Linked DNA regions of Homo sapiens: all the other regions are linked to region 3. The links come from fine-mapping of genetic effects on gene expression. A gene starts in region 3. Each other region holds a variant in brackets. All regions are shown on one strand. Distances are between the middles of the regions.

Region 1 (9,935 bases), 46 kb after region 3:
GGTTCACACTCCTGGAATCCAGTGCCACAGCTGACCTGACAGGAGATGGAGCTCAGGTTTAATGTTCACTCACCCAGGGGTTGAGGACTCCTGTACTAGAGCACTCTAGCCTTCTGACCTGAGGAATATGATTTTTAAGGCAATGGTATTCATTTAGGAATTCCAACGTCTGGTAAACGACCACTGAGGTCTCAGGATATGAGTGAGAAAATGAGTGTATTCTATACTTTAGGCTCTATTGAGGATAATGTTAAGGAAAATTCCACTCCAAATTTGTCTCTGAAATAGATCTTTGTGGTCCAAGAGTGAAGATAAGTTATGCATATGTAGCAGAATATCATTTTGATATATTCACCAATGTAAATTTTTCCAAGAATTGTCTGTGACCCTGTGACTCTATCCTTTTTGGGCAATAGGTCATGAAAGATCTGCTGCCTCAAGGAAGATCGACAGAGCAGAAGCAAAAACAAAAGGGTCAAGGCAGATTTGTGGCTTTAGCTGTTTTTAAAAATGATGTAGAATAATATCTGATCGAGAAAGACAATAAAGATTAGAGTAGCAATTATCACACTAGAGACTGGAAAACCAAAGTTGGTTCCTCAAAAAGATCAATGAAATTGCCAAATCTTTATCTAGACTTACCAAGAAAAAAAGAGAGAAGACTTAAATTACTAAAATCAGGAATAAGAGAGGAGGCATCATTACTGACCTTATAGAAATAAAAAGAATTATAAGAGAATACTGCAAACAATTGTGTACCAACAAATTAGATAAATAAAATGGACAGCTCTTAGAAAGGTACAAATTACTGAAATAGATTCAAGAGAAAAAGAAAATCTGAATATATCTATAACAAGTGAAGAGATTAAATTAGTGAAAAACTACTCGCAAAGAAAAGCCAACACTGAGATGGCTTCAGTGGTTAATTCTGCCAATAATTAAGCCTTAGAAGTGAAAATACTTCCTGGGACCATTTATTTATTCATTTTCTAACAAATATTCGAGAACCTACTGTGTGCTAGGGACTTGGAGTACAACAGCAGACAAGACAAAGTCCCTGTTGGTCAAGGGCTTGATTTGTCATGAGATTTGTAATCAAGGCACAGTTTTGTGAGCTGCTGGCAAGGGAAACTATTGTGAACTCACAGAGTCCACATAGGACTTTATGGAACGCTGGGTTTGTGTGCCAAACAACTGTTTATCTGACTGCAGTCACCTCCATCCATGCTTCCATCTCCTCTCCTCTCCCCTGTCCTTCTACTCCCACCTTTTTCTCGCTCTATTGAAGCAGCCAGCCCTGCTATTCAGAAGTGGGTACGCATGTCCTCTTTGCTGTTAACCACTCTGCAGTTGCTAGAGAATCTCACACCTGTAGGACACAGGAGTAGAAGGTCTTTCCTACGTCTATTCTCAAAGTGTGGATCATCAGACCTCGAAAGAGGCTAGGAAGTCATCTTCTCCCTTATCAACCCATCCCAGTCTCTCTCTGACATCTTGTGCTCCAGATGTTGGGGACAGCATTCCAAAATGCTGCTGGAGTTGGGCTCTCTCCTACCTGTCACCAAGCTGTGCAGTGGGAACCAAGCTCCCATAGCCTCTAGTGTAGAGGAACCTTCAACAACATTCATCTGAAAATCTAGTGATGGTTAATACAGGCATGTCCCCTGGGGTCTGAATATTTTCATTTCTTTTTTTTTTCTTTTCTTTTCTTTTTTTTTTTTTCCTTCGAGACGGAGTTTTGCTCTTGTTGCCCAGGCTGGAGTGCAATGGCACAGTCTTGTCTCACTGCAACCTCCACCTCCCAGGTTCAAGCAATTCTCCTGCCTCAGCCTCCCAAGTAGCTAGGATTACAGGTGCCCGCCACCATGCCTGGCTAATTTTTGTATTTTTAGTAGACAAGGTTTCACCATGTTGGCCAGGCTGGTCTCAAACTCCAGACCTCAGGTGATCCACCCGCCTCAGTCTCCCAAAGTACTGGGATTACAGGCGTGAGCCACCGCACCTGGCTGGGTCTGAATATTTTCTGTAAGAAACACTAGCATCCCTCTCAAAGGCCCTATGACCTTTTTTTCATCCTTCACAACTTTCTTCCTTAGCCAACTGAGGTTTGTCTGGGTTCACAGTCAGCTGCACTACACAAGCTCGGCTGGAATGCCCGGCTCTGGGAATTGACAGCTGGCTCACCTGGCTGCAAGGCCAGTTTCCTGGGCATGCGACCTGTACACCTGGGCACAGGGCTCCACTCAGGCCCCACACTTGGTTTCATGCTCTGCTGTCACCATCTTGAAATTCTCAACTTTTTAAATAAGGAGCCTGCATTTTTATTTTGCACTGAACCCTGTAAATTATGTATCCAGTCCCACAGGGTTGCATTGTGGACCTTTAGGGGCTACTTCTGTGTCATGTTTCTGAGTCTGGTTAGAGTGGTGATTAATCACCTGGCTCTGGGGCGGACAGCTGGCATTTGAATCCTGGCTCCTTTACTTACTAGACCTGTGATCTTGAAGGTTCCTCAGCCTCTTGATTTCTTTATCTATAAAGTGGGATAATAATAGCATGTATCTCATAGGCTTGCTGAGAGGATAAAATATGTTAATACATATGAAACACTCAGAATGGTGCCTGGAACATAGTAAAAAGCTGTGCAATGTTGGATGTTTTTGTTGCGTGCCTATTCCAAGGTCACATTGTTCTGTATCTTACGGCAGTGTATCTTGCACTTGGTGGTGAATCTGCCTGTTGAATTTAATTAGTTCTGTAATAGTCTCTGTTCATGAAAAGACTGCAGCAGAGTGAGCAAAGTGGGTGTGGAAGGGAGACCCAAGTTCTGCTTTTGTTCTGCCATGGAGCAGAGTTCCGTGTTAGCTCTCCCTTTCCCTGACCCCACAGACATCCCATCTACTTAAAGCCATGTTTCCCAAAGTGTGGGCCACGTGCCCCTGGACAGGATGATTTTAGGTACCACATAGACCCAGCATTAAACAACATTCCATCTCATAGACAGTTATGCATTTTTTTATATCCTTTCCATCCAGTGATTACATATAGAAAAATGTTTCCATTCAGTGTTAATAATTTTTTTTTTTTGAGACAGAGTTTTGCTCTTGTTTCCCAGGCTGGAGTGCAGTGGCTCGATCTCGGCTCACTGCAACCTCCACCCCTCCGGGTTCAAGCGATTCTCCTGCCTCAACCTCCCGAGTAGCTGGGATTACAGGCGCCTGCCACCACGCTCGGCTAATGTTTTGTATTTTTAGTAGAGACAGGGTTTCACCATGTTGGCCAGGCTTGTCTTGAACTCCAGACCACAGGTGATCTGCCTGCCTTGGCCTCCCAAAGTGCTGGACAACACCGTGCCTGGCCAGTGCTGATAAATTTTTAACATCTCTCACATACTTGCAAATTTCCCCTTTGTAGTAAAGAAAAAATTTTGCCTCCTGAACATGAAAGGAAAAAAAAAAAAAAAAGGAAAAAACAGGCCCAGGACTTAAGCCTGCATCAGACCACAGTATCTAGTTGGAATGTTAAACATTATAATGTTCTCATTGTATTTGTTTCTAGGATTAATTTATGAGTAGAGAAACTGGTTTTTCCATGTAAGGTAATAATCCAAAATTTCTGACGGAGCAAAGTAACATGTGAGAAAGTCTAACAGTGTTTAAAAATAAGAAAATATTCGCAAAGAAACCCAGGGCTATGGCCAAAAGCAGAATGGAATTTGAGGCCACTGAAAAACAGATTGAGTGAGTTTAACACCAGTTAGCATCAACATCACAAAACATGATTTCTTGTTGTTGTTGTTTTTGAGATGGGGTCTCACTGTGTCTCTTAGGCTGGAGTACAGTGGCATGATCTCAGCTCACTGCAACCTCTGCCTCCTGGGTTCAAGCAATTCTTGTGCCTCAGCCTCCTGAGTAGCTGGGATTACAGGCATGTGCCGCCACACTGACTAATTTCCAGCTAATTTTTTTTTTTTTTTTGCATGTTTAGTAGAGATGGAGTTTCATCATGTTGGCCAGGCTGGTCTTGAACTCCTGACCTCAAGTGATCCACCCAGCTTGGCCTCCCAAAGTGCTGGGATTACAAGTGTGAACCACCGCGCCCGGCCGACAATATGATTTTCATCACAGAAATGTGATACACATTTGGAAAAAAAAGCAACGAGCAGTGGGGAAAACTAAGGAAGAAGTATGTGCTAAGCAGTGTCTCCCAAGATGGCAAATGGAAGTGCAGCGTAATACAGCTCAGGGTAAGACTGTCTCTAGGGAGGAACCTGGGTGGAGTAAAGAGAAGGAAAAGGAAAGGAGGGTTTTTGGTTTGAGGCAAAATAGAAAATTGCAAGCCTACATAGCAGGGAACATGTGTATTCTTTAGACATGACTGTGATCATGCAGACAGTTAAACATCTTCGTGAGCCTCACCTGTCCTTTTGGTTGCATTTCCAAGGCCTGGACAAAGGCCGAAGCTCTCTCAGTGCCCTGGCTGACTTGGCCCAGATGAAGTAATTGCAGCCTGTTGCTTACATCATTCTCCCTGTCTTCATTGTGGAGAGTGAATCAGCAAGTCAGCAGTTTCCTTTTAAAGCTCATTTATTTATGTTTTTTAAAAAGTGAATTTAAAGAATAAAAGAATCCGAGGCAACCTGGATTTGGGAAAGTGGTGAAGGCGTGTGCCATATCTGTTAGTTCCGCACCCCCTTCCCATCCACTCTCCAACCTTCTCTGTCCTGCTGTATGCCCCGGGCCTGGTTAGGCCATGTCAATGTGTTATTTGTCCTCTGGCTTCTGTTGGGGGTCCTTAATGGGGAGCACTAGCAGGAAAATGGGAGAGGAAGAAGAGTGAAGTCAGAGAACCTGTGCTTCTGCTCCCTCCCTGCGGGGTTGCTGCTGGCTGGCTGTGTCCCTGCACTGCAGGTCTGCAGCCTTCTGGTGCTTCCCCTCCTTCTCTGGCCTCTTCACAGGTAGGGTAGTAGCAGCTTCTACTGCCAGTAGCTTCAGGGAACTGCATTATCCCTGTGGTTGCCCCACAAAAGACTATGGCAAATTGTCCTTTTCTTAAATTCTCCTCAAATAACCCAGATTGAGCGCACCATCTGTTTTTTGCTGGGCTGCGGCTGATACAAGGTTATTTACAAAGATCAAAGTTTGGGAAACACTAACCCAGAGGAAATCTACCTGTATTCCCCAAGATCTCTCTGATCCCTCAAACCTTCCAGATATCCAGAGGAGGTAATGGTAAGGGTTGGTAAATGGTGCCATCTTCCTCCCTACCCTTCATCCCCTCTCTTTTTCCAAGTACTTCTTTTAGTTGCTATTTTAATACCGATAATGCAATACTGTTTTCTCCAATCCCACAGAGTATAAATCTCAACTTTTTGTAGGTAACAGAATTCCATTCAAGTAAAACAATTAAATGATTCAGATACTCCATGAAGTTTTATTTTTAAAAAATTGTTTACCCTGTACATGTTTCTATTGAATCCTAAGTA[C/A]GAATGCCCAAGGAGATAAAGCAAGTGCAGTTAAGTATGCATGGGAAAGCTAAAATGGGTATGTACATAAGATCGGCAAAGGAAACCAAGTTCTGTAAAATGAGTTCTCCCTCCCCTCCAGGGTAGCTGATTATGAGGAAAATAAGAAAGAGCTTTGCTTTTCTCCTTAGTAGTAATGGTCTACAATAAGCTGCACACACACATCCCTCATCACACCTCTCTCTCAAAAAAAAAAAAAAAATGCAGGGAGATGTGTCCTGCCCAGGTTAAACTACACACAGGCTATCTTCAGGTCACAGGAAACAGTCACACTTGCTTGTAAGTTCACTGGTTCAGGTAAGCAGACCATCTTTTCTCTGGAAGAGAAGAGCAATAAGAGAGCAGTGGCTGGTGAGGAGACAGGGCTTGGCATTGTGTGGCTTTTGAATTCCCATGATGTCTGGTGAAAGAAATCTGCAATCACCTACAATTAAGAGCCAGTTCCTGTGGTCCAAGTGCCCAGGGGTGGTAAGGTTAATGACATAAATGCCTTTAGAGGAAGGGAAAGGGGATGTGGATTCTGGATCCACACCCATGAATGTGACCCATGACACAGTTGGAGTGGAGGCCACAGAGGAGAAAATATGCAATGAGAAAACTTTGTTCTAATAAAATCTTACATAGAAACCAAATATGCAGAACAAATACAGTGGAATTTCCCCAACCCAAGATGGTCCCACAGGAGGTTCTGGAAAACACCGGGTGTCTGTCATCTCTGCTTCTAAGATGATAATCACTATGATGAGATTGAACCTCAATAGGCAGCACATCTAATGCCAAGACTGGTCTTTGATGTGTGAGTGCATCTGGTGCAGAGGTGAATACTGGGGCTTACCTGTCATTGACAGGCAAAAGGGCAGTGCAGAACTTCCCAATAATGGTAGTCCGGTCTTTTTTCCAAACTCGGTTGGAAGACTGAAACTTGAATTTCACTTGGTTTATCTGGCATTGTGGGGTGGCATGGGCTATGATTCCTTTCCCATAGCGTTGCTGCTTAGGTCTGCAAGAAAAGGGTAAAGGGAAAGTAAATGACTGTAGCCCTTACCACCTGTACTTCCCCTTTGGCTCCGATCGGGCTCTGCTGGTGGCACTGGTTGGCTGTCATGCACCAAGGGGTTAGCTCCTTACCACAGTCCTTTGTGTCACCTTCACCAGCCCCTCTGCCCACACCTACAGCTTTGAATATGACCAAGAAAGTAGTTGTTGATTTTTTAGAATAAACAAGTGGACACTGCAACAAAATAGTAGCTCCTGGATTTTCATATCTGGAAAAACTGTTCCTCGTTCTTGGATTCCTAGCTGGAGGAGATCTTCACCTTCAGATCTAATTACCCAGAAGTAGAAACCCTCTTTTAGGACATTCCTTTTCAAAGAATTCTGTGTAAGGACTTTTCTGTTTTAGGCTAAGTATGAATGTGTGGGTGGAAACAGCAACAAGAAAACATCATGAAGCGCAGACAGAGTTGGGTGGAACCCAGGTTTGTCTTCCCAGCTGTATGGCTTTGGACAAGTTACCTAAGCTGGCAAGGTGGCTGTGGAGTCACATAGCAACTAGGTGTAAGTTCCAGCTTCCCTACATGCTGCTATGAACTTGAACCGTAGGGTTTGGTTCATACTGACTTCAGCTGAGGAGACTCAGAGTGAAAATGGCATCCAGTTCTGTCTTAACCCAGCCTCTTGGCTTTGCCCCCCCAGATTCCCTTTATGTTTAAAGATTCAGGCACCACTTTGGACTGAGACAAAGATGAGGGAGGAGTATGAAGTGATCAACCTAGCAGGGTGCTTCCAAAAGGGCTGTGGTACCCCCTAGGTACTAGGTACTGGAGACAAAAGCAAAAAATCGTGAGATTCAATGAGGAAAGTCTTCACGCTGAGTGCAAGGCACAGCCCAGCCAGCAGATCCTGAGGGTGGTGAGTGGGGGATCAAGGAGGGCGCCCAGCAGAGCTGCACCACCCAGCTAGGGAAGGAATTTGACTTGTGGGGCCCTTTGTGATCCTCCCTGGAATCCAAGTGGGACTCTGAAAAAGAGGAAAGAAGGAGGGCGCTGCGTTCCTCTCGGCGGGGGCAGGGGTGGTGTGGGGAACCACCCTTGCCAACTGGGTTTCCTGTTCCTTTCTGGCCTTCGCAGAGTGGTGATAGGGCCTCTTTGTGTTCTTTTTAGTCCAGTGTTAGTCATATCACTTGTTTTTTCCTTCTGAGGGAAGATCATGTATAATTTTGTTTAAAAACCATTCCCTCTTTTTTTAAATTCACAAGTCTTTTGAAATATTACAGAGGGAATAAATAAGATTGTTTCCTTTAAGCTTAGACTGAAGAGTTTGTAAAATACAAGGAATATGAAAAATCTTTTAAGTGAGTGGTTTGGGGAGTTGGCCCAGGTTAATTCTCCAATTAGAAGGAAATCTTAGCGTCGCATAAAGCTATAGAAATTTGGAAAAAGACCACACATAACCTCCCCGTTTTTCCCCCAATTTCTGATCTGCAAGAAGTGAATCATGTTCTGGTGCCTTCTTCAAAAGAGTTATGTGAACCTCTTCATGGAGGAGGAAGCGCTAATCTGTGGATGTTGACTGGAATTACTCGGGGAGCTTTTAAAATGTAGCTGTGGAGCCTATGCCCAGAGACCCTGATGTGATTGGTCTGGGTTGGGGGGCTTGGCGTCAGTATTTTTTAAAGCTCTCCAGGTGATTCTAACGTGCAGTCAGGGTTGTGGGTCATTTTCATGACTCCTGCCAGTGTTGCTGGACCTACCAATGGGCTAGAAGATGATGAAAACACCCTTCTAGAAGTAGCACAACCTTGAGCGGGTCTAATGAAAGGTACTTGGCTTACTGATATCCAGCCACAATCTGCAAGGCTCTGTGGGCACCTGCAGGCCTGTGCTGGAATCCTGATGGCTGTACCTAGCTGTGTGACTTTGGGTGAGCCAGAAGGAACACCAGCTAGTGGCCACGGTTTTGGGAGTGAAATGCACTCCTTCCAGCAGAAACTTGTAGTGCCTCACAGCAGAGTTCATGTCCAACATCCCAACCCGAGAAATATCTCCAAACTCACATCTGATCTCATCACTGTCCTGTTTAAAACTCCCAGTGGCTCTCCAAACTACTCTCAGGATAAAAACCTGTCCTTCAAGGCCTGGCAGGGTCTGGCTCTGACTTGCCTCTCCAGCCTCACAGCATCCCCACAACCCCAAATCTGTGCTCCAGACACACCAGAGGTGTCACATTCTCTCTAAGCCTGGCCTGGGTAGCTCCTGGAAAGCCTGCTCATCATTTCCTTGGACTCAGTCAGACTCTGTCTTCTATGCTGTCACTCTCAGGGCATTGCTCACTCATTTAAGTGTGTGTGCACTGGTCATTTCCCTGTTTGCTCTGGACTGATCTATTCCCCTGCAGGTTCCCCCACCAACAGGTTCCAGTGAGGTCTAACCCAGTGGAAGCATGCTCAGGTGGGTGGCTGCTTTGGGCAGGGGTTCCAGAGGGGCCGCACTTCCCATGGGTTCAGCTCCTGCCAAGCAGCCTTCCCTGTGGACCCAGCTTTGCCAACTCCACTCCTGCTTTGTCCCTCTAGCCTAGGGTTGTATTGGCTCCTGTTGTGATTAATCTCTGCATTGTGTCCCCATCTCTGTTTTCCAGCTCATCCAACACACTTGTAATGAGTTCACTGTGCTAAATTCCTTCTCTTGGACCTCCTCTGTTTTCCTGACCGGACTCTCACTGAGACAGTGACATTATCTGACAATCTGTCTCCCGCTGGCTTGTGAATAACTAACCGGTTGCTTTTTAAAGAAGCATGCACCATGGCTGCTGACTTCCTATCCCCTGCAGGCTGTGGCTCCCTACAGTTGGGGTTCCTTGCCCTCTCACTTCAAGCGTAGTCCCACCAGCCCCCAAGCCCAAGTCTGCCCCAACAAAGGAAGGGAATGACTACCCCCAGTTTCAGGAATCACCCAGCACCAAGCCCTCCTGGCCGCTAGTCTGGCCCTCAGCTCGCACTCCGTTGCTGACTGACCCTGTGCCTCAGATTCCATTCTGGTAACTGACCCAGAACTGCTCTCCTTTCCCAGGAGTGGGTGCTCTCCAGGCTCTGGCTAGCCCTTCCTGGGCTGGTGACTGAGGCCCTCCTCCCTACTGACATCCCTGATACCCGCACTGTCTGGATTCCAGAGTACTGTTTCCTCTCAGGGACCTGATTCCTATGTCCTCTCCATCTGTTGGGACATGCCATCCCTGCTGCCTGCTTGCCCTGCCTACTCTCATCTGAATCTGCTATACTTGGACCCACTACTGAACAGCTCCTCAGCATGTGTCTGTGGCTGGATCTATAGTAGGTGCTGCCCCCAGCCAAGCCGGCTGGGCCCATGCATCAGCAATCACACAGTCCCTGACCTGGGATGTCCATGTGTGTAAA
Region 2 (9,935 bases), 19 kb after region 3:
TTACCCTAACAGGGTGAAAGTTTCTCTTGAGGATCTTTGATGCCCAAGGGCTTAGCTCATAAAAGGCACTCAATAAATATTTGTTGAGTGAAAACATCTCCTTCTCACCATATTTGACAATTTTGAATTTCTCATAAATTTTCATCAAGTTATAGCAGTATAGTAAAAGTCCTTATGAATTGAGTCCTTGATTAGTTCTGGGAGGTTACTGAGCACCCCGCCTGTACTTCAGGGGCGATAGGAGTAATGGGAGTAAGTGCTAACCCAGCAGCAGGGAGGAAGAATCAAGGAGTCATTTGGAATCCAGAGAGTCACATTTCTTTTTCTTTCTTTCTTTCTTTCTTTCTTTCTTTCTTTCTTTCTTTCTTTCTTTCTTTCTTTCTTTCTTTCTTTCTTTCCTTCCTTCCTTCCTTCCTTCCTTCCTTCTTTCCTTCTTTCTTCTCCTTCCTTTTTTTTTTTTTTTTGACAGAATCTTGCTCTGTCACCCAGGCTAGAATGCAGTGGCACAATTTTGGCTCACCACAGCCTCTGACTCCCAGGTTCAAGAGATTCTTGTGCCTCAGCCTCCCCAGTAGCTGAGACTACAGGTGCCCGCCACCACGCCCAGCTAATTTTTATACTTTTAGTAGAGACAGGGTTTCCACCATGTTGGCCAGGCTGGTCTCGAACTCCAGCCTCACTCAGGTGATCCACCCGCCTCAGCCTCCCAAAGTGCTGCGATTATAGGCGTAAGCCACTGTGCCCAACTAACATTTCTTAGCCTAATGTTTGCATACTCCAGCTTTATCTCTTGGCAGCCCAAAGTAGATTCCTAGGTTCAACCAGAAGTTCCTTGAAAATTGTCAGACTTCATAGAAGTGTGGAGTTGGGAGTCATGGATCTAGTACTGTACTTCCACTTACTGGCAAACCCCTTGGGACAGAGTATTAAGTTTGACAGACTTGGGTTCAAATCCTGGCTCTGCCACTTAGACCATCTGTGGGAGCTTGTTACCTCTCTGAGCCTCAGTTTCTTCCAGATCTAGAAGGAGAATAATATTTATTTTGAAGGATTGTTGTCACAACTAACTTATAAGTGTATAAAATGCCTAATCTAGGTTTGGCACTTCATGGGTGTTTAATAGGTGGGAATTATAATTTGGAAGCACCGGAGTGGGTGGGATGATGATCTGGGCAATGTATTATTATTTGTTTACTATTACCAGATCCAGATATATGCAGGGGAAAGCCAGCTTAGAATTCAAAAAGCCACTTTACATAGCTACTTTTGTTAAATGGATGTCAAATAAATACATAATGATATTTGCAGTGTGACTTAATAAAGGCCTTCAGGGGGTTTTCCAGCTTTCACTGTTAGGATTTTTTCTGATAATAGTCCCATACTTTCCTACTCTGATGTGTCCTCACTCAGAAGCACTGTCTGGCTCTCCCCAAAGGGAGCTCGGGACAGTTTCCTGCCTGAGGTGTTCAGGTGAATTCTGTGCTCACTTTTCCTTTCTCTCTCCTTGTCTGTCTCTCTGACCCTGAGGTCTTATCTTGTCCTCTGGGAGGTATGTTAAGTGCTCTGCCAGGCTGCCTGTGCCTGGCCTGTTTTTTCTCACTGCCAGTACCTCTTGGATTCCAATTCCAAACATGGTATCCATCTGGGGTCACCCTTTCTTCCGGTGCCAAGAGAGAACACATTCCAAATGGAACACAAATGTGCCTCCCATGCTGGCTCTCCTCATTCTGCTTGGGAAAAACAGAGAGCAGGATGTGGCCGCATCATCCCACGCTGCTGGACTTTTCAGTCCTGTAGTGCTACTTTCCCTTGGGACTATTTAGGTTTTTCTGCTAAGAACCAAATTTGAAGACTCCCAAGAAACATGGAACCAAGGAAGCTTGCCAGAGCTCTGCAGGGAGAGCCAGAGCCTTGCTGAGACAGCGGGGGTGGTGGGGAGGAGAGAGGGGGGGAGAGGGGGAGAGAGAGAGAGAGAGAGAAAGAGGTTTTTAAATTCTCCATGAAGTGTACTATGTTCCATCATTCCTTCCCAAAGCCACCGGAAGCATTCCTTCTAGGAAAGGTGGAGTCGGTAGTGAGAAGCCGGAGGTGAGAAGACCCCTGAGCGGATGGATTCATTCATTTTCTGAATTTCCTATGTGAGGACAGTATTAGAGCCCAGTGAGGCTTTGAGAGGCCCCAAAGATGAGCGCCAACAGCAGCAGAGTGGGCCAGCTTCTCTTGCAGGGTTCAGCGTGCATTAGGTGGAAGCAGGATGTGGAAGGGGCTGTCTACCACCTAGCCAACTGCCTCTTACTCCTGGGCTTCATGGGGGGCAGTGGGGTGTATGGATGCTTCTATCTTTTTGGCTTCCTGAGTGCAGGTTACCTGTGCTGCGTGCTGTGGGGCTGGTTCAGTGCCTGTGGCCTGGACATTGTTCTTTGGAGCTTCCTGCTGGCTGTGGTCTGCCTGCTCCAGCTGGCACACCTGGTATACCGCCTGCGTGAGGACACCCTCCCTGAGGAGTTTGACCTCCTCTACAAGACGCTGTGCCTGCCCTTGCAGGTGCCCCTACAGACATACAAGGAGATTGTTCACTGCTGCGAGGAGCAGGTCTTAACTCTGGCCACTGAACAGACCTATGCTGTGGAGGGTGAGACACCCATCAACCGCCTGTCCCTGCTGCTCTCTGGCCGGTAAGCTACTCTATCCATTGCCCAGAATTTCTTTCCCCAGCCCACACTTCTCATTTCCTAGTGTGTCCCTTTCCATTTCATGTCCCTTTCCATTTCGTGTCCCCTTCCATTGAGGGAAGGATGTGACAAGTCAAACAAACCAAAATAGATTTTTCTAAGAGTGGGGTTGCTTCCTCTTTCTTGGCATTTTCCAAGAAGAAACCAGTTCATGAGGCATCTTGGTTGGCAAGAATGATTGTATGTGCACTTGCTGCTGGAAGGTGTGCAGTGCGTGTGTCTTGAGCCTGGGCCTTAAATAACCCCTCTACCATCACCACACACATATCAGTGTGTCATGCCTAAGCTGCAGCAATATCTCTGTAAGCTTTGAAAAACTAACATTTCAATAAGGTTAATCTGTTCCTTACTCAAATTCAACATTTGCTAAGCACCAACTGTATTCAGGGAACAATGCCAGAAATGGGAGGTCGGGATAGCGGGGTGGTTCTCATAACCCCTGTTCCCTGCCAAGGCATCAAGCAAACAGCCCCACTTGTGTTTGGGGTAGCTGTATGTAGCCAGGTAGGGAGAGTGAATACCCCTTGCCCACCTTTCCATTTCCAGTTGTTCTATTGAGGTTCTTGAAGACTAAGAAGTCAAGTACAGTACTGTAAATCTGAGGGCCCAACAATGGGAGAAGAGAAGTGATACACCTATCTCATCAAGGCTTTTGTGGAAGCACCGCCTCTTTTGGAGAAGGCTGACAGTCAGATATGGGCAGAAATGGTCTTAGTCAGGATCAGTGTATGCCCAGTCAACCTGGATGTGAATGTTGGGCATTGATTTCTTCTGAGAAAACATCACGGGGCTCTGTGCTACACACTTAGTAGGCAATTGTGGATTTTTTTATACTGCCCTAGTGGCTCTTGAGCCCCACAACCCCCACTCCACCAGCTTTCTTGAGACCAGGAGAATGTGATAGAAAAGGTAAGATGGCAATTAGAAGGCTCCAATTCCAAGAAAAAAAAAAAAAAAAAGCAAATCCAGATAATACTGCCAACCACACAATGGAGAAAAAAGTTTGACAATGATGCTAATGGTACTACAACTACCACTAATAGTAATAATACGTGTTTGTGTATTCATTTATAGAACCTGAAGTATCATGTATATATGTTTTGATTTTGTTTGAACTCAGAGGTCCTGGATAGAGTGAGCTAGGAGGGGAGACATTTTGTGAGGGTACATTTCATTTCATTTATTGGTGAACTGAAAGTGTAAACCAATGCGATTATTTGTAAACAGATATAGATGTAAATACAAATACATATAACTATTGTGAAAATGTTTGCACCTATAGTTCCATGCTTAAAGACAATTTAGGGAACTTGCTCATTCATGAGACCCATGATGTTATAGCTCGTCTGTTCAAAGGAGGAAATTGAGAGCAGCAGAAGTGCTCCCTCCAGTGTAGGGTGCCCATTTGCTGGAAGCATGTATGGTTACTGTATAGTTCAGTTAGGATAGATTTACTGTGAACTTGTATAAGATCACTTCCCAGTGAAGGGGAGAGGGGGGCTTGCCCTTGGTGTAGCTTTTCCTGGTATACTTAGCATCAAAAGGCTGAGTCAGAAATTAGACAATTTTGATTTTTTTTTTTCCTGCCTTTCAAGGTTTGGAGTAAGAGTTTTGTTATCTTTCAGTGTCACCCTGTCTCAGCTTTGCTGAGCTGGACATAGAGGAAAAGGCTTCTAGTCTATGACTGGGCTCTAGTTTTAAAGGAGAATCACTGAACCTTGGGCTGGTTACAGTAAGGGACCAAACATCTCAAAGCAGCAGACAAGAACTTTGTGCCAGGAAGTGGGGACTCTTGTGCAGACTTCCACATCTCACATGCACACTGTTCTCTAGAGTCCTTCACTCAAACCTCAGAAGTCTTTTTGTTTTGTTTTAATAAAGGAAACCAATCTCTTTCAAAACTCAGAGAGGGAAAGTGACTTTCTCAAAGTCTATCACCCTGTTAAGCAGCGCTTAACTTAGACGTTTCTCTCATATAAAATTCAAAACACAAACTTCCATATATACAACCCCCTGAGCAGGCAACTAACTATCTAAGCTATTCATTTAGGAGAAGATCATCCATCTTCCAGTAGATCAAGAAGGAAGAAGAAACAGATGATAAAGGGCACAGCATTCCGATTTAAATGGCTTCAGCGAGCCACGAAGATCATTAGACATTATCTACACTCTACGGTTGTCACTCTTTGGTGGCTTGCCTGGGTGGCCGAAATCCTCGCCTAAGGAGCTGACATATGCTGCAGCAGCGCCATTCTCTTCTGCTGTCTTCCTTTGCTATGGAAGCTTTTCAGTGAGGTTTTGATCCCCTTTTATGGTGACACAAGTGAGTTTGTTCCTTGGTTTCCTTTGTTCATTTATTCATCCTTACTTTCTTGCTTCCTTCTTTCCTTCTTTTCCCCCTTCCATACATATTTATTCAGAGTCTTGAATAAAGCTCCTGTCTTCCAGCTTTAGGTTGTCAGATAATAGGTGCAATTGTTTTTTTAATTGGTGCTGGTCTTTGGTAATTTGTATACACGC[A/G]TGTATACCTAGGCATTCATTAAGAGCAAGGCTCAGGAGTGCTGATATCCCATTGGCCAGGACTTATCACTTGCCTATGCCTAGCAGCCAGGGAAGTAGAGAAATGTTGATTTTTTTCTCTGCAGTCATGTGTCCAGTTAAAATCTAGCACCATTAAGGAAGAGAAGAAAGCAGATACTGGAGAACAGACTGCCACACTGGATTTCCCAGGTCTTTGTTCATTCTCATCTTTATCTGCTTCTCAATACCCTTTGCATCCCTCAAAATTCAGCTCAAATGTCATCTCCTTCGAGAGGTCTGCTGCCCAAAGAGAACCAATCTTTCTCTCTCCTCTGTTACTGTTCCACAATAGCACCTATCACATTGACTTGCAGCCAGTTATTTATGTGCCTGTGACTTCCACTAAATTGTGAAATCCTCAAAGACAAAGACCAGATTGTGCCCATCTCTGCATTCCCAGATCTCCAGAAACATGAGAGATGCTCCAGAAATATTTGTTTAGCCAATAAACCTCCAGAAATAATGGAAGGATATCTCCCCCAAATGAACAAGGTGTACCTTAGAGATCTTTTTCATCTTCCCCCTTTGCCTAATAGAGGCACCCCTATTGCCTGATATAACTCACTTTAGAAGAGAGGTTAAAGATGAAACTCTGAGTTTTCTGGGCAGGGGTCGGGTTGGGGGAAGGATAAAGCCCATACTGGATTCTAATCTTCTTCCAGATGTGGCCTCACATCTGAAATACACTCCCTGTCCTCAGGCATCATCAATGACATGCCATCAGTTCTAACAAGTTCTCATGGAATGCAGTCTTTTTACCCTGCAGGGGCAGAGCACTAGGCTAGGTACAGCCACAAGGGTACAAAGGCACCAAGCAGCAATAGTAAGGCTCCTAACCCCTTAAGTTGTGAAACCAAGCCTGTGGTCATGGGCAAGTCAAGAGCAGTTAATGACTTAAGACTTAAGACTTAAGAATATTCATAAAATTAAAGCAAATAATTCGGATTTCTGGCTGCAGCCACAGTAACCCACTCTAGCCAACAGAAGGGGGAAAAAAGGTCTTTATTTAAAAAAATACAAGGATTTCTTATGAAACTCAAGGAAAGACATGCACCTAAGCCTCAGGTAGTGCTAGAAACAAGAACATGTCCTACTAGGACATTTTATGTGATTTCAAGTTTATTTTCTCTATAGCCAATTGGGACCCATGCTTTTCAAAGTCTGAGTTACGTGATAAAAAAAAATTTTTTTTAGTTCCTTCAGGGAGGAGTGTGTTAGTTTTGTTAATAATGCCTGATAATTGTCCCCATCCAAGGCATGATTTACACGCAATTCCATTTCCAAATTCCCAGGGAAGGAGTTTGATTGGCTCAGCTTGAGTCAGGTGTTCACTCTAGGACCATCAGCTGGATAGGGTGCATGGGATCTCATTGTCTAAAGAAACAAGCTGTTATTGTCACCTACGGTTAGAGAGGTCCGGGAAAGGGTCATGCTAGGAGAGTCCACTACCATCTACCCAAAGCTGTAGTAATAGGGTGGCAACATGGTGTTGTGCTAAGAACATAGAATTTTAGTTCCGCCACTTGATCGCTATGTAGCCTTAAGCTCGCCACTCAACCCTTCTGAGCACCAGTTTCCTTAGCTATAAAATACAGAAAAGAATAATCTACCTTGTGGTGTTGTGAACATTATATAAGAGAACACTGGTAAAGTGTCTAGCAGAGTCTGGCATATGGTAGACTTGCCACTTCCTTCAAAGTCTACAAAGTGGTTAAATGTAAGCATGAATCTTCATGTAGCTAATGGGAAGGGAGAAAGGAGAATCTGTGGAGCAGCGGATCCAACAGAACTTTCTGTGATGACAGAAACGTTCTAGATCTATGTTGTACAACATGGTAGTCACAGGCCATATGTGGCTATTGAACACCCATATTGTAATTAGGTAAGGAACTGAATTTTTAATTTTATTTAATTTTAATTAATGTAAATGTAAACTTAAATAGGCAGCAGCATTCTTTTCTCTTTTTTTGAGACAGAATCTTGCTCTTTTGCCCAGGCTGGAGTGCAGTGGTGTGATCTCGGCTCACTGCAACCTCCACCCCCGAGTTCAAGTGATTCTCTTGCCTCAGCCTCCCAAGTAGCTGGGATTACAGGCACCCGCCACCATACCTGGCTAATTTTTGTATTTTTAGTAGAGATGGGGGTTTCACTCTCTTGGCCAGGCTGGTCTCGAACTCCTGACCTTAGGTGATCCACCTGCCTCAGCCTCCCAAAGTGCTGGGATTACAGGTGTGAGCCACTGCGCCGGGCCAGCAGCAGAGTTCTTAAGCAGTAGTTTCTATCTTGGCTACACATTAGAATCACTGGGGAGATGTAAATACTAATAATATCCAGTTCCTACCTAGAGAGATTCTTGTTTAATTGCTCTGGGATAAGGCCCAAGCCTAGGTGCTTTTTTTTAAAAGCTTCCCTGGGACTTCTACTCTGCAGCCTGAAATTGAGAACCACCAGTAAGGAGAAGGAGGAGGAAAAATGAGGGTTCTGGAAGTCTCAATGGGTTCCTTTTCTGAACTACTTGCATGCAGTAATTAGGCTGGCTAGTCTAGCTTTGGGTTTTACCATGCTTTAGGCAAAGTATTTCTACAGGAAGATTCATGTTAATCAGCGACACCTAACTTCAGCATAGGTGGCTTGGAGAGCCATTTTCCTTTTCCCACATGATCTCTTCTCTTCCCTTGCCAGGGTTCGTGTGAGCCAGGATGGGCAGTTTCTGCACTACATCTTTCCATACCAGTTCATGGACTCTCCTGAGTGGGAATCACTACAGCCTTCTGAGGAGGGGGTGTTCCAGGTAACAGGGAGCCTGGTGGCAGCACCGCCTCACCCCATCCCACTGTAGCCCAGCAATATCCGTGCCTCCATGTTTCCCCTCTTACATCTGTCCTTCGCACCCCTGCCAGTGTGAAGCTACAGGCGGGGGCACTCTTCCTCTGAAAAGAGTTCCTGGGCTCCTAGCCATAGGTGAGGTAGGGTAGGAAGATGCTGGCCCCTGGGTAGACCATGTTACTTGTATGCTTAAACTCTTCTGGAAGACCCTAGTGCCACAACATAAAAACCCACACTTGTTATAGGGTAACTTAAACCTTTTAGTGCTCTCTAGTCGCATTTCCAGCTCTCCCTCCTTCATATTTTTTGCTCATACTAGCCATGCTGAACCACTAGTACTTCCCTAAACACACCACATTGTTTTGCAGCTCTATGCCTTGGCCCCTACTCTCCCCTCTGAAATGCATTTCCCCTTCTAGATGAGACCACGGAACCTCACTTCCACTGTGAAGCCTGCTTCCACCCCACAGCCTCACCAGCTTCCACCCCACAGCCTAGCACTCCTGTGTGCCTGTTCTAGTCCTTTTACTTATGCTAACTGGTGCACATCTTGCTGTCTGTTCTAATAATCTGGTCTCCTTTCTGTCTTCTGCACAGTGAACTCTGAAGTACAAATCTAGGCTTTTCCCTCTCTGTTCCCAGACTCTAAAGGAAAGTACCTGGAGCACAGCAGCTGTTCAGTAAAGAATTGCTTGCCGGGCGCGGTGGCTCACGCCTGTAATCCCAGCACTTTGGGAGGCTGAGGTGGGTGGATCCTGAGGTCAGGAGATCGAGACCATCCTGGCTAACACGATGAAATCCCGTCTCTACTAAAAATACAAAAAATTAGCCGGGCATGGTGGCGGGCACCTGTAGTCCCAACTACTTGGGAGGCTGAGGCAGGAGAATGGCGTGAACCCGGGAGGCGGAGCTTGCAGTGAGCCGAGATTGCGCCACTGCACTCCAGCCTGGGCGACAGAGTGAGACTCCGTCTCAAAAAAAAAAAAAAAAGAATTGCTGAACTGGTTTGCCACTGGGCAGCTGGTGTCCCAGAGGACTCCATGGGGCATTCACATACATGCTCCAATGCAGGTTCCTGGCTGCCTGGCCCCTACTCTTCTTATCTCTGCCAATCCCTCAGGCTTTGGTCACTTTCTTTGTAGCTCTCACTTATTGAATGGCTAGCATGTGGCAGGCACTACGTATCATATTGCCTCATTGATTCTCATAACAACTCTATGGGTTGAATATGATTATTACTCCATTTAACAACTGAGGAAACTAAGGCCCAAAAACATCAAGTAATTTGCCCAGGGTCTTCAGCTAGAAAGTGACAAAGCCAAGTTGCCTGGATCTACCATTTCTGTTCTTTATTAAAATGGGAAGGTCACCAGAAGAGTAGAGTTTACACACACACATACACACACACACATGCACACGCATGCACACACGCGCACACACACTCACTCACCCTTTTAAGGACTCCCCTGCCTGGATAGTTTGCTGGACCTGGAAACACTGGATTCCATGTGTCTCCTACTACTTTTATCAGGGAGTCCCTCAAGCCAACATATGAGCCAACCCCGGAACAGACACACACCGGGCAGTGCTACCTGGCAGGGCCTGCTTCTGCCCCCACCCTGACACTTGGCTCTGTGATGATGGAGCCTGAGAGGCAGTCCTGATCCCACTGCCAGGGTCACCAGCCACAGATCCACTTCCATCATGTTCCTACCCTGACCTCCGTCCACACACCCTCCCTAACTAGTCCAGAAACCTTCTTCAGGAACTCTCTCAGGCACATGAGAACCTCCAGGA
Region 3 (9,935 bases):
TGGAAAGCATTTTTTCCTTTGCAGGGGCAGATATAAGGACAAAAATTACCTTACTTACTTTTGTAAGTTAGTTTATACAAAGTAGACATAGTACATTAGGCCAATGAGAATTTAAGTCTTGTAATTCTTATCTCTCAACATATGGTGTCACTCCTTCTCCACCAACAACTACTCACCCTTACTTGGTAAAGCTGGCACACCTGGGATTAGTTAGGCCTGAAAAATGGCTAAAAATACCTTTATCATAGAAGGATTTTAGAAAGTACTTTCTCAGTTGTTGCTTCTGGCATTACCAGGGCTGTCATGCATCCACAAAATTGCTGTTTGGTGCCACTGGTAGCTAATGTCCCCATTCAATAACATACAATAAACATATTCACTGTGCTATGAAAAAATCCACTACAGTCACCACTTCAAGTCTTAATGCCTGCTAATTTAGCAATTATAGTAATAGCAAAGCATTCCAAAGGTTTAAAAGAGCTCCAATTCTGGTTAAAATCAAAATTGATGAGCAAGAGCTTGATATAAAAGGTATGAATCAAACTAATTTCAGAGTTGCCTTTGTAAGACAGATGGGTGAATTTTATCTTTTATTATTTGGTATTCATCAGCCACCTACTGTCAATTTAAACTCTAATTACAGCTCTCTAAAATTATTTTTCTTGGGGGAAGTGGGCTATTAAGATTTTTGTTGGGGTAGAATGGGAAAGGATAAATTTCTTATGTTATATACTCCTACCTTTCCTTTAATACCGAAACAGGCCATCCCACGAGTATAAAAGCATTTAGACTGGGTAGGAGAAGAAAAAATGATAGAGAAAGAAGAAAAGCATAGTGATAACATAAAAATCAAAAGTTGACCTTACAGCTTACTTTATATAAATTATTATTATTATTATTTTGAGACAAAGTCTCACTCTGTTGCCTAGGCTGGAGTGCAGTGACGTGATCTCGGCTCACTGCAACCTCCGCCTCCCTGGTTCAAGGGATTCTCCTGCCTCAGCCTCCTGAGTAGTTGGGATTACCGGCGCCTGCCACCACGACTGGCTAATTTTTGTATTTTTAGTAGAAACGGGGTTTCACCATGTTGGTCAGGCTGGTCTCAAACTCCTGACCTCAAGTGATCTGCCCACCTCAGCCTCCCAAAGTGCTTGGGATTACAGGCGTGAGCCAGCACGCTCCACCTTACTTCATATAAATTAAAAGGTAGAAGGAAAAGTAACCCACATATGTGGGTTAGCTGTACCATTCTGAAGCAAGAGGATAGTTTAGTAGCTAGATATAAATGACTAAATATTTCACTTTGGAAAGGCCACTGGTTGTTTTTTTCAAAGTCAGGAGAATATTTCATCCTGAAGAAGCAGTTGTTGAAAGAGTGTTAAGGGTTACAGCACTCAGTAAGGAAACCAAAGGTTGTAAATGTCTGGAACACAGCAGGTTAAAGAAGTGTGGTGCAGAAAGGGCTGCTACTCAACTTCTTTGCCTGAGGCCTGCCTATATTAGCTAACCTGAGGAAGTCACAGGCAGTGTTATCACAACCAGTAATCTTTCTTCCCTGAAGCAAGGAGGGACAGTGGGCCAAAAAATCTTCTCAATTGCAGAAAAGCTGTTTGAGTCTTTGGGTCTGTTATCTGTCCCTACTGTTTATCTCAATTCTCTTAGCTCTCTAAACTCTGTTAGATATTTATCTTCCTTTTCTTCCTTGTTCATTTCCTATACATAAAAATGCAATAGCACAAGTGAATACAGATCAATGATTAGTTTTAAAATAAAAAAATTTTGCTTTGCATTAATTAATTAATTTTTTTTGAGACAGTCTCACTACATCACCCAAGTTGGAGTGCAGTGGCACAATCTCGGCTCACTGAAATTGCCACCCACTGGGTTCAGGTGATTCTCATGCCTCATCCCCCCAAGTAGCTGGAATTACAGGTTACCACTCCTGGCTAATTTTTGTATTTTTAGTAGAAATGGGTTTTCACCATGTTGGTTGGGCTGGTCTCAAACTTCTGACCTCAGATGATCTGCCTGCCTTAGCCTCCCAAAGTGTGGGATTACAGGTGTGAGCCACTACACCAGGCCTTGCCTTGCATTTAGATAAATTAAGTAGGATAGTAGACAGAGTACAGGGAGAAGATGATGAGACTCAGGATTGCCACTTTCAAGTTACGCAGCCTTGAACAAATGTACACCTCTGAACTTCAATTTTTCCCCAACTATAAATGTAGATAATAATTTTGACTGCCATGAAGATTAAATGATGGTTCACAACCTCGACAGCCCTACATATATGGAAGATATTGCGACTGAAGGTGACATTGTTTCAACTGAATACATATTCTAAGTGAACACATTAGTTTTTTAACTTTTAAAATTTTTAAAAATATGTAGATTTCAAATATTTTCTCCCAATTCTATCATTTATTTGTTAACTTTGTCTATAGTATTGTATGTAAAACCCCAAGCCTTTATTTTGCTGTAATGAATTTCTTCAATTTTTTTGACATGCAATTTGTACTTTTGAAATGTAACATAAGTTATTCCCCCATCCCTCAGTATTAAAATATTCTCCTCCACAATTTGCTATTAATTTCATATTTCAATCTTTCCAATCTAGGTCTTTAATGCATCTAGAGCTCTTCCTTTTAATGTAGTGTTTAATTTTCTCCAGATGGTTAGCCTATTTTCTTTTCCCCAATAATTTGTTGAACCACATTTTATTGTATATTAAGGTTACAAGTGATGTTGATATTGCTCATCCAGGAAGCACTGTTTGATTAGCAAGATTCTAAACAATGTGAGTTAGCACCTAGTTGAAAGAATTGATAATAATGGATGAGGGTGAATTTAGAACATGAGGGTAATATGTTGTATTATTAAAAATATCAATCCAGAAGGAAATAAAAATCATCCTTATTGAAAGTTTTCAGATGACAAAATGGGGATGGTCTTAGTAACCTGAAAAATACACATATAGAAATTACTCTTATACAGCACCAGTTCACAGACACGCCTGTAAATTCCCTGAGTTAAATATCTATAATATAGAAACAAACTTTGATTAGGTGATGCTGAAAGTTTAAGTACCTAAAAATACCTATCACCCTGCAGCTATTGAACAGTGCCTCCAAGTCCTGCTTTAAAAAATGATTTTATTGGCCAGGCGCGGTGGCTCATGCCTATAACCTAGCACTTTTGGAGGCTGATGTGGGCGGATCACCTGAGGTCAGAGTTCGAGACCAGCCTGGCCAGCATGGCGAAACCCCGTCTCTACTAAAAAATGCAAAAATTACTCGGGCGTGGTGGTGCACACCTGTAATCCCAGCTACTCAGGAGGCTGAGGCAGGAGAATTGCTTGAACCCAGGAGGTGGAGGTTGCAGTCAGCCAAGATCGTGCCACTTCACTCCAGCCTGGGCGACAGAGCAAGACCCTATCTCCAAAAAATAAAATAAAATAAAATAAAAAAGAGTTTATTGCCTGTTTCCAACAATACTCTGCAGGAAAAAAATCCAATGATTATATCCATTTCATTGCGAATAAGACGGGCACCAGTTTATCTATGTACCTGAGGAAATGCTATGGAAATGGTATTTTTCAATTTTATTCATCAGTATATTAACGAATATATGACTGAATAATTCATACTGAATTCAGATCAGTTGGAGGGGGGCTATAAATGCAAATTAGCTGAGGATTTAATGTGCGTAGGAGGTGTATAGGGGGTTATAGGACCTTTTAAATTCCCCCAATAGTTGTGGACTCGGTGGTTCTATGTCTTGCTATTCATTTTTAAATAGGTCAATGAAAGAGAGGAAAGGCCTGCAGTGTGTGGGGATCAGGAAGAAGGCGGATAAAAGAAAAGGGGGAAACTAGTCTGTTATTCAAGGGAACTGGCTTTCACTTATGGTTTCTCCTGTTTGGCTTGAACAAATCATTTCACCATCTTGGGCTTCCGTTTCGATATTGGGTGGGGAGGAGCGGGTGTTACGAGATCTCTCAGTTGTCTTGCTGCTTTCTTTCTTCGTGAGCCCTCCCCAAGTTGATTTAACAAATACTCTATGACCTAGAGTCCTAGAGTGTAAATACCACAGTCCAGGTGAGCGTTCAGCGGGCCTCCTTGCGCATGCGCTGAAGGGGGCACCCTCTCGTTAAGGCCCGAATTTTGCCTCTTCTGCGCACGCGCTCCTTTTAAATTCCCCACCTGTCAGAGAGAAGCAGGACTTCCTGTACTTTTTAGAGCGACTGCCGGAAGTGACTGCGGACGAATCGGCGTTTGCCGAGGCTGGCATAGATTTGGCTGTCTCCGCTCATAGCTGCTTTTGGCGCGAAAGATGCCGGGTCTGGTTGACTCAAACCCTGCCCCGCCTGAGTCTCAGGAGAAGAAGCCGCTGAAGCCCTGCTGCGCTTGCCCGGAGACCAAGAAGGCGCGCGATGCGTGGTCAGTGCGCAGCCGGAGAGGGCGCGGCCGACGAGCCCCGGGCCGCGGCCTGTGCCTTCCGGTGCCTCTGCCCTACGGCCTCTGCCCTCTGCCTTCTGCCCTCTGCCCTCTGCCTTCTGCCCTCTGCCCTCTTCCTTCCCCCCTTCCCCCACTCCTCCTCCCTGTCTGCCCCCCCCCCCCGCCCCGCCCCGCCCCGCCCCATTGCGGCGCTCTGGAGATAATTATTGGGCCTTGTAGGTTTCGTGGTCGGGTCTCTGTTGACTTATCCCGTAGCTTAGTACCGGGAAACGATGGAGAGAGAGGAGAACGGCAAGCTTCAACCACTCATTCCTTCCTACAAATGTGTGTTGAGTATCTGTTATGGGTTAAGCACTGCGTTAGGTCCGAAGATGTAGACATGGATAAAGATGCATCTTGATATAAAGGAGCTTAAAGTTAATGGAGACATAAACCAGTGACTTGTATACGACGTGGTAAGGGCTATGATAGATTTGTTAAGACCAAACAGGAAAGGTTTTCTGGTAATTTCTAAGGCTTTCTCCCAAAATTTAGAGACAGTAGGACACAGAGTGTATTCCTTACAGTTCTGAAGAGTTACGCTTCAACCCTTTTAAGACAACCAAAAGTTGAAAATCAATCAGTCTACGACGCAGGGGACAAAGTATTAAGAATAGTTCATCTAGATTGTCAATCCACAAAAGATTTGTTCTCATTTTATATAGCCTCTCTTGTGGAGCAAATCTCATTAGAGGACGTCCTCAGATAACGTGAATGTGCATCTCTTCCTCTGGCCCCTTTTGTCTTCCCAGATAGTAGATATAAGAAAGAAATCATTAGTGGTATAATGGGATAATAAGAGTGTAGGAGCTCAGTGCTTTTATTAATCCTCAGTACTTTGTAAATAATACGGGTAGGATTGAAAGACTAGTCTGAACAAATTGTTCCAGTGGTAACAGTAAGTGCTGTTGAACCTTGAATGGTATGACAGCATGATTAAGAGTCTGGGATCCACAGTCAAGGTTTGAATCTTAATCCACTAACTTGGTGACCTTGAGCCTCATGTGTCTGTAAAATGACTCTAATAAAAGAAACTCCCTCCAGTATTATTGTAAAGGTTAATGATACAAGCCATGTCAAGTGGCTAACACAGTATACATGGCAATAAATGATCAATGAATGCTAGCTATTATCTTCACAATGATCTCACTATCCCAGGCAATCTCCCATTTGCAGGCAGCTCTTGAGCTATTGAAGGATGGGTAGAGTTTCCATGGAAGGAGAACCTATTCCCTTTGTTAAATTCCCTTTGCCTCGATTGCCTCAGACCACGTGGGTTCTCCCCAAATATCCATAGTCAGGAGTCAGTTTTTCCTTGTAATTGAATTGGGCTTAACTTGATTATTTGCAAAATCACATTTTCAGGCCTTAGAAATAAAGCTGTGTAGTCCTAGTCTTTACTTTGTGAATTTTACAAGTAAAATATTCTTTGATCATCATGAGGGGGTGTTTATCTCGGTCTCCTGGCTACCAGATGTTTTTGATGTAATTAGAAGTAGATTTATTTGGTTGTGTTTGAATGTAGGGCAAAATCAGAAAGTTAATTTCTCTGTGATAATAAGCAAAAAATTGAGCTGTTCTCTGTGCCCTTCATTTAGCATAAATATTTTACTCAGTTTATTTCTTTATAGAGCAGTGTTACTCCTTGGATATTGACTAGAGGCAATATTTAATATGCGTGATTATTTCTTATCAGATTTCCCCCCCAAAATCACTTATCTGTGGAATGTCTTCATAGGCATGGGCATATCATAAGATCAAATAAAAACAAAGCTGTTTGAGGTAATAGCGTTTGTTTTAATTCCAGCTACATTCCATTATACCCGTGTTTTGTCTCACTCCCCATCACTATCATGCATACTTAATAATGTGCTTAATGCATATTTAGATAACAAGTACATTTTGTTTTATAGTATCATCGAGAAAGGAGAAGAACACTGTGGACATCTAATTGAGGCCCACAAGGAATGCATGAGAGCCCTAGGATTTAAAATATGAAATGGTAAGCTTCTTGCTTCAAAGTTGTGTATTGCTTTACAGATTTAGCAACAATTGGGCTACATTCTCTCTGAAAGGTAGTTCACCTGGTTAATCTAAAATGCTTAAGTATCAATTTGAAAAAACCATGATTTTTCAGTTCCCAATGAAGGGAGTAAATTATGTCAGTAAAGACAGTCATTTAGCGGATTGGGGAAGGGGAGAATTGAGCTTTTAAGAAAGGGTTTGACAAAAGCCTTTAGGTCCCATGGCTTTAGGAAAATTGACTGAGGGAACTAAAAGAAACATATTCTCTTTCTTGTTTCTAATAAATATTGTGGGACTTCAGTAAATGCTTTTTTTTTTTTTTTTTTGAGACAGGGTCTCACTCTGTTACCCAGGCTGGGGTGAAGTGGCCCAATCACAGCTCATTGCAGCCTCAACCTGGGAGGTTCAGGTGATCCTCCCCTCAGCCTCCTAAGTAACTGGGACTACAGGTGTGGGCCACCGTGCCTGGCTAATTTTTTGTGTTGTTTTTTAGAGATGGGGTTTCACCATCTTGCCCAGGCTGGTCTCAACCTCTTGGACTCAGGCAATCCTCCTGCCTTGGTCTCCCAAAGTGCTGGGATTAAGAGGTGTGAGCCACTATGCCTGGCCAAGAAATGCTTTTAAGTAGGGAGTGGGTATCCCACGGAAGTATTGCTTTCTGAAAAATGAAAATGGAATTGTAGCATGCTTTATTCGAATAAAACTAAAGCCTCAGGCCATTTTTTTTTTAATTAAAAAGTAAACTTTAATGTCAAAAATGCAAACTTGGGGAAGACAGAAAAGATCACACACAAGGCTGTCACTTCACACTTGGAAGGTTGCACAGCGGCCGGGCAGAGGTGCTCCTCACTTCCCAGACGTGGGGCAGCCGGGCAGTGGTGCTCTTCACTTCCCAGACAGGGCAGAAGCCGGGCCGAGGCACTCCTCACTTCCCAGACAGTGGGCAGCTGGGCAGAGACGCTCCACACTTCCCAGACGGTGGGGCGGCCAGGCAGAGGCGCTCCTCACATCCCAGACAGGGCGGCAGCTGGGCAGAGGCGCTCCTCACATCCCAGACGGGGCAGCAGCTGGGCAGAGGCGCTCCTCACTTCCCAGACGGGGCAGCAGCCGGGCAGAGGGGCACCTCACTTCCCAGATGGGGTGGTGGCCAGGCGGAGAGGCACCTCACTTCCCAGACGGGGTGGCCGGACAGAGGTACTCCTCACTTCCCAGACAGTGGGCAGCCGGGCAGTGGCACTCCTGACATCCCAGACAGGGCGGTGGGCCTCAGGCCATTTTTAAAAGAACTTGGAACTCTTAACCCATTTTAAGTGCTGAAAGGGACCTTAAGTGGTATGTGTCCAACAATTCCACAAACAAATGATACTCTTTTGTTTGGAAGCTCTTTCTTCAGTTATCAACTTAGCTCACCCCCTCACCCCACTCCCTCTTTACTCAGGTCTCTTTCAAAAGTCTCCTTATTAGAGAGGCTTTCCCTCAACACCCCATGTAAATTACATCCCTTCCCCATCACTCTATCATGGTGCTGTCCTAAGACCTTTCTGTGAAGATGGAAATGCTCTGTATCTGCACTTGCCAGTCTGGTAGCCACTAGCCATATGTGGCTGTTGAGCACTTGAATTGTGGCTGGTGAGAGTGAGGTACTGAATTTTTAGTTTGTAAAAATTTTAATAGCTACATGTGGCTAGTGGCTACTCTATTCTATACACTGTCACCTGCATGATACATATATTTTTAATTACCTGTGTTGCTTCACGGCAGCTAGAATGTAAGCTCTGAGAAAGTAGGAATTTTCTATTTCATTTACTGTCATATCCCCACTACCTATAACAGTGCCTGGCTCATAGTAGGTGCTTAATGGAGGATTGTTAAATGAATGAATAAATAAGGAAATTAAAGCTTATAGTTATGAAATGGCCCCCAAGGTGGGTTGTGCAGTATCAGAACTGGAGCCTCAGTCTCCATGCCGATTCCCTCTGCTTTTTGCCCCTACCCTAACTTCCACACCACACTACCACTTTTAACTTAATAACAGCTGAGAGAGAATGCCAAAGCCATATGCCAATATATTAGTACTAGAGAGCCTGGCTTCTTTCCCTTGCACCTCTTTCCTGCCTCTTTGGAATTTCACATATGGCCAGTCTTCCTCACTGAGCTATAAAAAAGGAGGGATAAGGAACTTGTCGCAAGCTGATAAGAAGTTACTGTGTAATGGAAAACAGTCTAGGCTGAAAGTCCTGAGGCTTTGTTTTTATTCTCCTGATGTTTAGTTTATCATGTTTTTAAGTTTAGCTACATTTAGCTTCATCAAGACATTACTCCTCTGAATTTCACTTATTATTTATAAAAAGAGAACCATAATACATTTTGTGATTCTATATATAGTATGGTATATCTACTGTTGTGTAAATGATATACTTAAGTTGCTTTTAGAATAGATGGTTATTTAAAGAAATCCCATAATGAACTATTTTATAAAATAAGTAAATTTGAAGGGGAGTGTGTTCTTAAAAAGTATGTGTACTTTATTAACTATTTTTAAAGATGCAACCTTAACATTTGTACATGGTTTCCTTGTTCATGATCTAACTCCCTCGTCAGTTGTGTAAGCTGTAGGCTTGTGCTGAACTTGCCTTGATAAAAAGGGGTGATTAAATAAAAAGAAATGCTAATTTTAGGAATATCAAAAGCTTATCTTGGACTTCATCTGAACCACAAAGGTGGTACAATTGTTATAAGTGGCATATATTCAAAAGTATCATATGATATCATAGTTTTCTTTATGTTATCAGGGCAGAGAGTGAGAATTATGTTTGTGTACTTCATTTGTGTGTAAAAGAAAATGCAAAAGCTTTAGACTTAGAAAATCTACTGCTTAACTGATTGTGTGGTCTTGGGCAGGTCCTTAACTTTCTGTACCTTGGTTTCCTCATCCGTAAAATGGAGACAATAATACATGCCCAAACTACTTCATAGAGTTGTGATGATTCAATGTAAAATAAATCATCTGTAAAAACCAGAACAGAATAGCTCATACCTTTAGAGTTGTGGATAGCAGACATTCAGTTGAGGTCTGTTAAGTATATGACTTGATTATTATTGAATCCTGGTTACAAGAAGAACAATCTGAATCCATATAGGACCCTTCTGAGAATTCAAACTGCCATGTTTTTCATTTTCAGTGTAATAATATTTTGGGAAGAGGACTGGGTGTTGGATCCTTATTGGTCCCAGGTGTCCTATTTCCCCAACCTCCATGGGGAAATGGAAGCACAGTGAAGTCAAAAAAGACTTGCTCAAGTTAGGAGTGGATAGTGGTAGAATTAGATTAGAGTTAAGATTTTTATATTCTCTAAATCACAGGCACTTTACACTTCACGCCTTGTACTTAATGAGATTTTATTCCAACATATT

Evidence for each region. PIP is the estimated chance that this variant, and not a neighbour inherited with it, causes the effect.
Region 1: its variant is fine-mapped to the expression of COX17 in putamen (GTEx, PIP 0.90).
Region 2: its variant is fine-mapped to the expression of COX17 in fibroblasts (GTEx, PIP 0.96).

What each region holds. Positions count from the first base shown.
Region 1 is chr3:119,625,290-119,635,224 of GRCh38, reverse strand. PLA1A (phospholipase A1 member A) reads right to left here. Exons shown (of 11, transcript NM_015900.4): 10 at 6,360-6,524; 11 at 5,414-5,841. The coding sequence ends at 5,757. Among named protein-coding and RNA genes, the nearest start is that of POPDC2, 30 kb to the left of the region's middle. The variant C/A (reference allele first, on the strand shown) is at 5,486.
Region 2 is chr3:119,652,673-119,662,607 of GRCh38, reverse strand. It overlaps POPDC2 (popeye domain cAMP effector 2), which reads left to right and starts at 2,019. Exons shown (of 4, transcript NM_001369919.2): 1 at 2,019-2,675; 2 at 7,995-8,103. The coding sequence starts at 2,185. The variant A/G (reference allele first, on the strand shown) is at 5,253.
Region 3 is chr3:119,671,708-119,681,642 of GRCh38, reverse strand. COX17 (cytochrome c oxidase copper chaperone COX17) reads left to right here and starts at 4,237. Exons shown (of 3, transcript NM_005694.2): 1 at 4,237-4,439; 2 at 6,410-6,498. The coding sequence starts at 4,333. The coding sequence ends at 6,494. RefSeq lists an enhancer at 3,799-4,058.